3 separate regions of the Homo sapiens genome follow, and all the other regions are linked to region 1. Evidence: fine-mapped expression QTL. A gene starts in region 1. Each other region holds a variant in brackets. All regions are shown on one strand. Distances are from middle to middle.

Region 1 (4,112 bases):
AGGATCTCTCAGTGCTTATCAATGTCAATCGAGAAAAATGACAAGTCTTAATCATTTCAGGAGGCTTATTTCCCAAAGTTAAGGACGCCCATGACACAGCCTCCGGAGATCCTGACGACGTGGGTCCAAGGTGGTCGGGGCACAGCTTGGTTGTATTCATTTTAGGGAGTCACGAGATATCAATCATATGTATAATAACAGGCCGGACAGGGCGCGGTGTCTCACGCCTGTAATCCCAGCTCTTTGGGAGACAGAGGCGGGCGGATCACGAGGTCAGGAGATTGAGACCATCCTGGCTAACATGGTGAAACCCGTCACTACTAAAAAATACAAAAAAAAAAAAAAAATTTGACGGGCGTGGCGGCGGGCGCCTGTAGTCCCAGCTACACGGGAGGCTGCGGTAGGAAAATGGCGTGAACCCGGGAGGCGGAGCTTGCAGTGAGCGGAGATGGTGCCACTGCACTCCAGGCTGGGCGACAGAGCGAGACTCCGTCTCAAAAACAAACCAACAAAAAAAAAACAGGCCGGGCGCGGTGGCTCATGCCTGTAAATCCCAGCACTCTGGGAGGCCGAGGCGGGCGGATCACGAGGTCAGGAGTTCAAGAACAGCCTGACCAACATGGTGAAACCCCGTCTCAACTAAAAATACAAAAATTAGCCGTGCGTGGTGGCACGCACCTGTAATCCCAGCTACTCAGGAGGCTGAGGCAGGAGAATTGCTTGAACCCGGGAGGCAGAGGTTGCAGTGATCTGAGATCACGCCACTGCATTCCAGCCTGGGCGACAGAGTGAGATTTCATCTGAAAAGAAAAAGAAAAAAAAAAAAAAAAAAAAAAAAAGAAGGACATTGGTTCTGTCCAGAAAGGCGGGGGCAACTTGGAACAGGGAGGGGGCTTCCAGGTCACAGGTAGGTGACAGACAAATGGTTGCAGTTTCTGGGTTTCTGATAAGCCTCTCCAAAGGAGGCTATCAATATGCATTTATCTCAGTGAGCAGAGGAATGACTTTGAATAGAATGGGAGGCAGGTTTGTCCTGAGCAGTTCCGAGCTTGTCTTTTCCCTTAGTTTAGTAATTTTGGGGCCCCAAGATTTTCCTTTCAGAAAAAAGAAAATGTGGTATATATACACAATGGAGTACTATTCAGCTCTAATAAAAGAATGAAACCCTATCATTTGCCACAACACGGATAAACCTGAGGATATCATGTAAGCAAAATAAGACACAGAAAGACAAATACCTCATGATCTCACTCATGTGGCATCTTTAAAACGAAGTTAATCATTAAGATATTTACCAGTTGTCTGAGGTATTGGGTTGAATTTTCTTTTTTTTTTTTTTTTTGAGACGCAGTCTCGCTCTGTTGCCAGGCAGAAGTGCAGTGGCGCGATCTCGGCTCACTGCAACCTCCGCCTCCCAGGTTCAAGCGATTCTCCTGCCTCGGCCTCCCGAGTAGCTGGGACGACAGGCACCCGCCATCACGCCCCGCTAATTTTTTGTATTTTTAGTTGAGACGGGGTTTCACCATGTTGGCCAGGATAGTCTCGATCTCCTGACCTCGTGATCCGCCCGCCTCGGCCTCCCAAAGTACTGGGATTAAAGGCGTGAGCCACTGCACCCTGCCTTCCAAATTAAAAACTTTTTAAAACCTCGTACCTCGCCGTGGGCGGCGACCGTCGCGGACTCGCCGGGAAGACGGCCCCACGGAGCCGGGAACACCGCCCGCTGTTCGTATGTCCGAGGTGACGCCCCGCTGTGGCGGGCTGGCGGAAGTGACGCGCTGCTGTGGCGCGCCGGCGGACGTGACGCCACTGTCGCTGCGACGATAAGGCCTGGCGTTATTGCTTAGAGGCGGCTACCTGGAGCCGGAAGCGCGGCTGCAGCAGGGCGAGGCTCCAGGTGGGGTCGGTTCCGCATCCAGCCTAGCGTGTCCACGATGCGGCTGGGCTCCGGGACTTTCGCTACCTGTTGCGTAGCGATCGAGGTGCTAGGGATCGCGGTCTTCCTTCGGGGATTCTTCCCGGCTCCCGTTCGTTCCTCTGCCAGAGCGGAACACGGAGCGGAGCCCCCAGCGCCCGAACCCTCGGCTGGTACGGACCCCTCCCCGGCGTCTCCGCTCCCCTGACCCCACATCCCCTAGAAGACCTTTTTTCTGAGCCTCGCTGCTCGGATTTCTTCTCGGCGCTCCCCGGTGGTCTCTTCCATTATGGTCCCCACCTCAGAAATTTTTTTTAACCGCTCCAGCGTCTCTTTTCTGTATTCTTACAACTTTGTGGCAACCACCTCTACTGGCCCCACTTCGACCTTCCTTCCTGATCACCACAAAGTAAGCTGTGTCCATACCTGGGATCCAGCCTCTCCACTTCTACTCGTCCAGAGCTCCCGCCCCTTTCCTGAGCAGCCTTTGGGTCACTCCCCGTTATAGGCGCCCTTTTTGCCCCCTAGCACACAACAGATAAGACCCCTGCCGATCCCCTCGCGTTTTGGTCTCTTATATTCCTCCAAGATGTTTTCCCTGCCTAGGGGCTAAGGCCTCTCTGCGTTAGGCCTCTTCCTAGGCTTCACCTACCCAGCCATATACAGCAAGTAAAGGCGCCCTGGTTCTGGACCACTTGCACACATCGCCAGCCGCTGACCATGTAAACGCAGTATGTAAACGCCCAGCCATCCCGTAGCTGCAGCTCTGCGTTTTAGGTCAAGCTCCCTAAATGTCCCATTCCAGGACCCTTACGTAGGGATTCTCCTACCCCAGTACTCTTCACCATACTGAGGATAATTCACTGCTTGCTACTGTGGGTCCCTAAGATTACTCCTGTTAACCCCCGTCCTTTCCCCCCAGCACTACCTACCAAGTACAAGTCGCCTCCTTTTGGGTTGGGTTATGTAGATATCGCAGGGTATGTGCTGGAGAAGTAGGTAGAAGCTAGATTGTGAAGGTGCTTGATGCTAAGGAAAGTTTAGAGTTCAATTTCCTTTTTTTTCTTTCAAACACTTAGGAGCCAGTTCTAACTGGACCACGCTGCCACCACCTCTCTTCAGTAAAGTTGTTATTGTTCTGATAGATGCCTTGAGAGATGATTTTGTGTTTGGGTCAAAGGGTGTGAAATTTATGCCCTACACAACTTACCTTGTGGAAAAAGGAGCATCTCACAGTTTTGTGGCTGAAGCAAAGCCACCTACAGTTACTATGCCTCGAATCAAGGTAAGTTTGCCTTAATGTTTTATGAATCATGGTTTGGCTGTTTTGAAGATTTAGAGGGGGTCTCTGTAGTCTTTCGCTTGGAGTTGCAATTTTAAGAAAGTGGAAATTTTGTGCTGTCAGTTGGCTGGGGCAATAGAATGTTGAAGGAGCCTCACACGGGATGGAACTGAGACCCATCATTTGTGCCCCATGTCAAGTAGCCAAAGCTCATGCTTCATGGCAAATATAAAAGATTTAGAGCAAGATCATCCAGGCTAACCTACCCCAAGATATGCCATTCTTGGTGACCTGCTTTCTTCTTTAATCGTCACTGGGTCATTTACAATCTTAGAAGGAGCCTTTAGAGTTAATCTAGTTCAGTCTCTAGACTTTATAGATAGGAAAGCAAACTCAGATAAGTTAAATGTGACTTCTCCAAAATTATCCACCAGTATACATAATGATCAAATCAGTATGTTCCGGCCTCAACAATTACCACTGTTTCCACCATATCCTTCAGGTGTCCAGCCTACTGACAGCAGCTTTGAAGTACATAGTGCATTTCCCAAGAACCGTGGGTAAAGAAAAAAGTAAGCCTTTATTGATTGGCTCAAAACTTTTGAGCAACGACTATGTGGTGATACTTCAATGGGTATGCAATTGGGGAAAAAATAGTATCTCTGCCTTCATGTAGCTTTTAGTCTTTAGATATACAGCCACTCAACAAAGGAGCATATGAAAACATGCAGTTGTAAAGTGTGGTTAATGCATGATGAGAAAGAACAGGATGTGATGATTAGTGGGTGAGAAAGCCTGGCTGAGGAAATTGCATTTAAACTGAGACTGGAAGGATGAATAAAGGTGGGGACAGAAAGGAGCAGAGGGGTTGAAGTGTGTGAGTGTATCGCATGTGAGCGTGGCATAAAGTCTCTG
Region 2 (4,112 bases), 38 kb after region 1:
CTCCTGAGACCCAGGCCACAGGGACCCTTGGCCTTGCCTCCAGACCCAGATGCCCAGCCCCCTGTCGACATTCCGCAGAGGTGTCCTCGGGCTGACAGGACTGAGGAGCCCTTTACAGGACATGCGGGCAGGGCCCACGCACCCAGGCACGCACACCCGTGCCTGCCTTTGAGCTTTTCCCACCCTGAAAGGAGCCCCTCGCCGCTCACGTCCTGTGTTGAGGCTCTCACAGCATGAGTGCTTCGGAGCCAGAGGAACCGTCCACCATGGTGGAAGTGTTCGTGCCCCGCAGACTCGGCGGGCCCGGGCTGGACCCCTCAGTCGCTCACAGGTTTCCGTAAGGGGTCGGGGGAGCATTGGCCTTGCTTCAGCAGTGATAGGCGCGTGCCTTCCCACAGCGGACATGGAGCCTTTCCAAGGGGAGAATCGCTCCCTGGCCAGACTGCAAGCTTCCCGGGGACAGGAATGCCTGAGATCCACCTGCCTTTTCTTCAGGTGCCTGTGGACGCTTGACACGCCCACTTTGGGGCAGTCTGTGGACAGACCCCCGTAATTTACAGTCACCGCTGAGCTTGTCATCACAGCAGAAAGCTGAGGCTCTGCGGGCGGAAGCCACCAACAGACCAGCTTGGGAGACACCCACTGTGGCGGCGCTGTGTGGAGACGTCCTTCCAGACTTCGATTCTGCATAAAAACAAACATCTGCCACGAGACCCCTGCTCGGCGTCCGCCTGTCTCAGCAGCTGCCCTGGGACGTCTTTCTCTGACTTGGTTTTGAGGCCAGCCGCGTGCTCACACTGGCCTTACAGAAACAGGAGACGCCGTCCTCGGCCGTCTGGGGTGGGCTGTCAGCACGTCGTGTGGTCAGGTGTCAGGACAAGCGGGCGTGAGCGCGTGGAGGTGCATCTGCCTCTGCCCTGGAGAACGGATGTGCTACAGCTGTGCGCGGCGTGATCAAGCACCTGTTGGGTGGACGGCACACCTCCCAGTGGCCAGCTGGAGACGGAGGGCTGGAAGTACTTGCCCGGCTCCTCTCTCTGTAGGTTTGGTCTTCGGCCTTGCAGCTGCCCTGGTGCTTGCAGATTGCGGTTTGATGGACCAGGCACTTTTCATCTCTTACACAGCCAGGCACGTTTGTGTTTGGGAGGGAAAAAGACAAATATTAAGTGAGGTGAAAGCATTTTGATCAACTGGAGAGTATCATGATATTTTTCCTAGTCAAGAAGCATTTCTCCTTCATTTTATAGGGTTTTCTTCTTCCCTTTTAAAAGTTTAAAGCATCAAGTTTTACTCATGGTTTCTATTTTGTTTCAGTAGAGTAGGAAAACTATAACCAGGTCTAAATTGTAGACAGAGAAAATATGTTTCCAAAAGGTCAAAAACGTGGCCTTGAGTGGTTGGCGACCCTCTGTTCCAGGGGCTGGCACCCCGGGCTGCCTGCTCCCCTGCAGCGCAAATGGCTCTTTGCTAAAGTGGTGGGAACAGCAAGCCGCCATCTTCTAGGTGGGTAACGCTATAAAGTGTTAAACTGAAGTCAAGGTGGTGCCATGTCTAAGCCACAGCTTCCCCATGCGCTGTCTGGGTAGGATGGGGCCACGGCCCACTTAGCCACGAATCTTCCTGCCCAGTATGTTCACCTTTTCCTGGGTGTTGCTGTCACCAGGAGGTGTATTGAGGATACCTTGGGGTCCACCTCCCTGTGGGGTCCCCGGCCTGTGGGGCTGGATACCAAGTGGTGACCAGCGGTACGGGTTTGGGGGACCCGCCTAAGGAGCCAGGGCCTGGCAAGGAAAGCAGTGAAAGGACCAGAGGCACCGGCCACCCACCGGGAGATCCCAGGGTCTGAGTATTTTACTGGAGCACATGGCGGGCTGAGGTGAAGGAGTGTTTGGAGAAGCCAAGAGGAGGATGGGCCCCTCCAAGGCCTGAGATGGGGAGCCGGTGGGGGGCTGAGGTGAGGCTGTGGAGGGGCCAGAGACAGCCCCGTCCTTGGCCCTTCGTGGCTGTTGACACCCTTTCCTGAGCAGTGAGCACTGAAGCAGGAGCCACTTACAGGACACCCTCAAGTAATACCTGGTGGAGCTGCTGGGCTGACAGGACTGAGGAGCCCTTTACAGGACATGCATGTGGGGCCCAGACACACATACGTGCCGACAGGAC[T/C]GAGGAGCCCTTTACAGGACATGCAGCGGGACCCACACACCCACACACACGTGCTGACAGGACCGAGGGGCCCTTTACAGGACATGCAGCGGGACCCACACACCCAGACACACACACGTGCCGACAGGACTGAGGATCTGGGGGCTGCCTCCGGGCCCTTTCTAACAGAACTTGATCAGAGGTCATGGATGAGGCATGGAAAGTGCCCAAATAATGTAATTTATCATTTTTCAATAATCACAGACTCAGGGAAGTTGCTTTGAGGAAGAGATTTATGTAGTGTGTTGGTGGTTTCAAAACTAGGGGGTACATTAACATACTTCGAGGGGTGGCTCTTATTCCGAGAATTTGCTCAGCAAACCCCGCTGGGCCAGTGTCCCCAGACCAGACAGTCCTCCACACCACAGCAGGGAGAAAAGCTCAGAACTTGTATTTATGTTTATTTGTATCTCACCCTTTTGTGATTTTCTATTCATCGTTTGTATTTTATAATGCATGTGATATAGTAGCACATGCATATATAATTTTTAAATAACTGCAAAGTCTGGGGGGTGCGTTTTTCAGAGCTGTTTTACAGATGACGGTGGCAGACAGTGGCTGAGCAGTTGGGGCTGCAGCTCATGTCCCCTCGGGCACCTCCGTGCCTTCTGGAGACTCAGACCTCTGCCCACCCCAGACCAACCACATCCAGATTTCTGTAGGGGGGGCTCCAGAGTGGCACTTCCAGCACATACTGTAGGTGATTTTTACATACAGTCAAGTTTCAGAAGCATTTCTGGAGAGCTCAAGGTGTGTGTGGGGGGGGACATGGTGGCCCTCACCCATCCTTCTGTTTGCTTCATTTTTCTTCATGAATTTGTCTCTTCCTGACATGTTACATATCTGGTTTCTCCTGCCTCCTTCACTAGAACACAGCCTCCAAGGGGGCAGGTTGGGTTTTCCCGTCTCCAGCGCATCTGGAGAGGCACCTGTCCCAGCACCATAGTGACTGGATGTGTGTGCAGAAGAAGGAACGCGGTGCCCTCTACTCCAAGGGCAAGAGCTACTGGAGTCTTTTTGAAAATAAAAGTGTTGTTACATGTGTGATATGTAAGTGGCATGTGCTAATACACATTTTCTTTCTTATTAACAGTGGTTCAGCACTGAGTCATGCTTGCTTCTGCTACGCACTGATTTGTTCTATTCCAGTTTTCACGTACATCGTTTTGGTGACATCTCTGCGTTATCATTTATTTATATGGAGTGTATTTTCTCCAAAACTTCTCTACGAGGGAATGCACCTGCTCATTACAGCTGCTGTCTGTGTATTCTTCACGGCAATGGATCAAACCAGACTCACACAGTCTTAGACTAAGCTGAACACTGGAAAAATAATACATGCTTAAAGTCTGCTGTTATTCTAAAATGAAAGATATGAATTCAACAAAGTTGATGGATAACTTTCTTTGACTGCTCTACCTGAATTTAGACTAAGCAGTAAATAGTTTAATAAAAGATCACTTTAATATACAGTTTGTATCATATTTTCCCCCATTGACAATCACTCTAGAAGCTTCTGAACTTTTAATTTCCTCTGAATAAGCTATGGTGTGACCCAAATATGTGTGTTTAAATCAATGAATGAAAAGGTTCTGGACTTTGTTAGAGTCCAGGAGCTCTGTGGGAGGAGGCACCCAGATTACCTTAGGGAGCACAGAGCTCTTAGAATCCTACAAACCACTGAGGGCCCCAAGGCGCTTTGGTTTATGAGGGTTACATGTATCAGTGTTTATGGCATTTGAGATGAAAACTAAGATAAAAAAGTATTCATTTATAAGGAATCTATTGCATATTAATGAAACACTTGAAGGAAAAGTAACTATATTTTCCAAAACAAAAAAATTCAGTGAGACCCAGCACTTTGGGAGGCCAGAGTGGGGGTATCACTTGAGCCCAGGTGTTTGAGATCAGCC
Region 3 (4,112 bases), 32 kb after region 1:
CAGAGCCCGCGGGTTGGATGACTGCACCACTGCACGCGTGTGTGCCTGTGAATGTGCAGGTGCTTATTTACCTATAACTGCATGTATGTGTACCTGTAAATGTGCAAATCCTTCTTTAAATCTGCTCAGTTGTGCAATGAACATTTATGAACTTACAGCAGTTTCTTAGAGTTGACTCTTATACTAGTGCGTTGGGTTTTTTTTAATTAACTGCAAAGCAGGCGGGCCACGAGGGCACCGCTTGGGTCGTGCCACCAGATGAGCCAAATGAGCAAGATCTCCCCGAAGCCAGCCCCAGCGGAAGAGTCTGCACGAGGACACACCTGTGGGCCTGTGGCGGCGGCTCCTCAGGGCTGCTGTGCGGAGGAGACATGCCCACTGCCATGACAGGACCTGGGGGGTAGGGAGGGTGCCGCGGCTCCTTTAGTCAGCAGTGCTGGACATTTACTGGTTCCCTGGGTAGATAGGTGTGTTTTTCATGGGAAAATGTTTTTGAATTTTTCTCACTGGTGCTAATGAATCTAACTTGTTTTGCTCTTTTTTAGGGGTATTATTGAAGCTCGTTTTGTTTATGTCTTTGTCCTTGGCATTCTGTTCACGGGCACCAAAGACTTACTTAAATCTCAAGTCATTGCTGCAGACTTCAAACTCAAGACTGTAGGTTTATGGGAGATATATAGTGGATTAGTTCTTCTGGCAGCCTTGCTCTTTAGACCACATAATCTTCCGGTCTTAGCATTTAGCCTCTTGATTCAGACTCTAATGACTAAATTCATCTGGAAGCCCCTGAGACACGATGCAGCTGAGATTACTGTGATGCATTATTGGTTTGGTCAAGCATTCTTCTATTTTCAGGTAGGTTTTCATTATTATCATGGGTAGTAGACTTCATGTTTTACATATTTATTTTAAATTTTTCTTTGAGAAAATGTTCCCATAAGTTGGAAAGTGACTGTCAGTGTGGCATGGTGAATTACGCTGAACTCTCGTGTATTTTATAAGACAAAGTACAGCCGGTTGTTTAAGACACGCGTCCCAGGTGTGGATGTGTGGGTGCTTAAGACAGCAGACTGCTGCTTTGCTGGGCCAGGCCTGGGTTTATTTATTACAAGCAGTTCAGGAAGCACAGACATCACGTTGTTCACTTGCTTCACTGATGAATGTAATAATTGTTCTCGTTCATGCCCTTTGCCCCTGGTGTCGGGGCTGTCCACACTGGGGACCATTGGTGCCCCCATGATTATTAGCTCCCTGAAGCCTGGTGGGTCGTCAGGGCTTCTGTCCGGTGTTTAAAGACCCATCCCAGACAAGCCCAAACCACCTCAGTTTGAAGAGACATAGAGGGACAGGCAGACGGGGCCTCAGAGGGATCCAGCCTCATCCAGCCTCCCGGCAACCTCAGGAGAGCAGGCCAGATGGGGCCTCAGAGGGATCCAGCCTCATCCAGCCTCCCGGCAACCTCAGGAGAGCAGGCACAGCCCTGCTGGTTCCCTTCCAGTGCCGACTCCCAGGCTGAGTCGCTTTGCAGCAGCTGAACGTCGTGGTTGCATTTTGGTCTCTACCGTGAGGTCTGTATTTTCTTGGTGTGCACCGGTGTCTGCCTGTCCGCTGTCTCGTACCCAGGAGGCATGTGCAGTTCTTTGTGTCCCTACAGGGCCTCTCTTCCATCCTCTTCTCCTTTCCTGGTGCTCCCAGCCTTTCCCATGGAACAGCCCACAGTTGCAGGATTTTCTGTCTTTATGTCTGTCCCCCTGATCCTGAAGCCCAAAGGTGGTAGGCGTGAAGTTACAGAAGTCTGTGTCTTCAGGTACAATGAGTAGGTGGCCAATGGCCAGCTTCTTAGCCCCGTCCTGGTGCTTCCCCGACCCTTCTGATCCGCTCAGGCCCCTGTCCTCCTCGTACACAGCTGCAGCTCTCCCTGCCATGTCCAC[G/A]CAAGGCACAAGGGTGTCCCCAGCAGAACTGCAGGCCTGGATGCTGGTATCCAGCACGTTCAAGCCAGGTGGCCTCCGGCAGGCTCTTGCCACACCTTCGTTTCCTTATCTGTAAACCAGGGATAGTGGTCTCCCGGCCTCCCCAGGACCCAGCCCTCCCTGGTCTCCCCACCTCCCCGTGGCCCCTGTTTTGAGGCTGAGTCCGCTGCCCCTCAGTGTTAGATCTCCTCTGAGAGGAACCTGTGGCTTTGCTGCCCATCCCTACTTCCTGCCCTCGACTGGGCAGTTCCTTAACAGATCAGGGATCAGGAACATGACTGCCCTTGCTCATCTGCTGGCCCTCCACATTTGCCCAGTCCCTGGGTCTCTCTGCCTCCGTTTCCTCCCTGTTTGATGAGGATAATCACGAAGCACATCAGGACTGTTGGGTTAGATGAAGTCATGCAGGTAAAGCTGCTGTGCAGCTGCAGACATGTCAGCATGGCTGGCAGTCTCTGTGCTTGGCTGAGCCTGCTCAGAGCCACAGTGACCTCCTAGGTGTCCTCCTCCCCTGCTCCCATCGTGGCATCTGGGACTCTGTCCCCCTGCCACCCTCCAGGGTCTCCTACTGCTTCTGCCTGTTTGCTCTCTCCTCAGTCTCCCTGCAGAAGAGCTTCCAAGTGGAGGAGACACATGACTGGGGTGGCACCGTCCAAGAGAGGCAGTAGCTGCGAGTCCAGTGGGTCTCAGGGCAAGCCAAGTCAAAGGGCTGGGGCCTAAGACAACAGGGATAGGAGTCAATGCACATCTGTGAGATAATGGGGAAGCAGCATCAACATGACTTGGGGACCCCCTGGGCCCACAGCTCTCTGCATGGAAAGGGAGGAAGGAGCCAAGCTGGTGAGCACCCAGCCAGTGTTTTGTGGACATGAACAGTTCTGGTTCTGGAGAGGGATCTTCGTTGAGCTTGATAGAGACATGTGCTGTCGGACTGTAGATGTCATGAGTTTCTGAGGAAAGGTCAGCATGACAGGCAAGTGACAGACATCAGAGTCAGTAAAGATGGAGCGTGGGGAGGCGGGGCCTGGGAGCAGAGAGGAGGGGCCTAGGAATGGAGAGGTGGGGCCTAGGAGTGGAAGGGTGTGGTCTTGGAGTGGAGAGGCGGGGCCTGGGAGCAGAGAGGAGGGGCCTAGGAATGGAGAGGTAGGGCCTAGGAGTGGAAAGGTGTGGTCTTGGAGTGGAGAGGCGGGGCCTGCGCAGAGAGGCAGGGTCTCTCAGAAGACCCCTTTTTGGGATCCAGAATCACTAGGAGCAGGGTAAGCTGTGTGGCATCAGCGCTTGCATCCTGCAGGGAGTTACCTACCAGGGCTGGGCCGGGACTGGCCAGAACCTTGACAGATGAAGTTTGACCAGACCAAGTGAGTCCTCATGGTCTGATACGTAAGCCAGATGTGAGTTACCAATTTGCACCAGGGGCTGTGCTCCCCCAGTGGCTGGCCTGCCCTCCACCATATAACCCACTGGCAGCACCTCACCGTAGATGGGACCTGGCTGGGTGCCCGTTCTAGTCTTCAGCCCAGCTCCCCGCTTGGCTGGGCCCAGCAGCTGGCCTCTCAGGGCCCTATGCGCCCCTCGGATGGGGGTCCTTGAGGGGAGCTTCATGTGCTTGTCTTAAGTCGATGGGTCTGGACAAGGGTCTTAGATGTGGCACAGTCAGCCAGCCGGTCTGTGTGTGCGTCCCTCTTCAGAGGGGGCCCCAGCTTCTGCACGGTCCGCTCACGTGCCCTTCCGCAGCCTGGGCACTGCAGGCAGGGGGAGGGGGTGCCACCTAGGCAAGGCCAGCTCGGCAGTCTGAAGGAACGGCTGGGCAGCCACCTCTGACCACACGTGTGTCCGTGCCGGCGTGGTTATCTGGGCTGCCTACACAGTTCACGCTAACATCGTGGCTCACGCTAACATCGTGGCTGTTGATGCCACGTGTTGTGAGGCCTTTGTCAGCTCTTCTCCTGTATTCCAGGGCAACTCCAACAACATTGCCACCGTGGACATCTCCGCAGGCTTCGTGGGCTTAGACACCTACGTGGAAATCCCAGCCGTGCTCCTGACAGCGTTTGGGACGTACGCAGGGCCTGTGCTGTGGGCCAGCCACTTAGTGCACTTCCTGAGCTCAGAAACACGCAGGTGAGGCGCCTCTCTGCCGTC

Alleles and levels. Positions count from the first base shown, and alleles are read on the strand shown. Sizes are in standard deviations (SD) of each study's normalised expression. Not every link is listed here.
As copies of C replace T in region 2, the expression in adrenal gland of the gene that starts at base 1,809 in region 1 goes up (moderate effect, 0.56 SD a copy in GTEx).

What was found.
Region 2: its variant is fine-mapped to the expression of PIGG in adrenal gland (GTEx, PIP 0.91).
Region 3: its variant is fine-mapped to the expression of PIGG in blood mononuclear cells (TOPMed, PIP above 0.99).

The regions. Positions count from the first base shown.
Region 1 is chr4:497,402-501,513 of GRCh38, forward strand. It overlaps PIGG (phosphatidylinositol glycan anchor biosynthesis class G (EMM blood group)), which reads left to right and starts at 1,809. Exons shown (of 13, transcript NM_001127178.3): 1 at 1,809-2,088; 2 at 2,995-3,200. The coding sequence starts at 1,935. It overlaps ZNF721 (zinc finger protein 721), which reads right to left and starts at 1,755. Exons shown (of 3, transcript NM_133474.4): 1 at 1,655-1,755. RefSeq lists enhancers at 1,041-1,906, 1,470-1,949, 1,907-2,770.
Region 2 is chr4:535,861-539,972 of GRCh38, forward strand. It overlaps PIGG (phosphatidylinositol glycan anchor biosynthesis class G (EMM blood group)), which reads left to right. Exons shown (of 13, transcript NM_001127178.3): 13 at 3,293-4,112. The coding sequence ends at 3,509. Among named protein-coding and RNA genes, the nearest start is that of TMEM271, 38 kb to the right of the region's middle. The variant T/C (reference allele first, on the strand shown) is at 2,161.
Region 3 is chr4:529,891-534,002 of GRCh38, forward strand. PIGG (phosphatidylinositol glycan anchor biosynthesis class G (EMM blood group)) reads left to right here. Exons shown (of 13, transcript NM_001127178.3): 11 at 546-855; 12 at 3,928-4,091. Among named protein-coding and RNA genes, the nearest start is that of PIGG, 33 kb to the left of the region's middle. The variant G/A (reference allele first, on the strand shown) is at 1,932.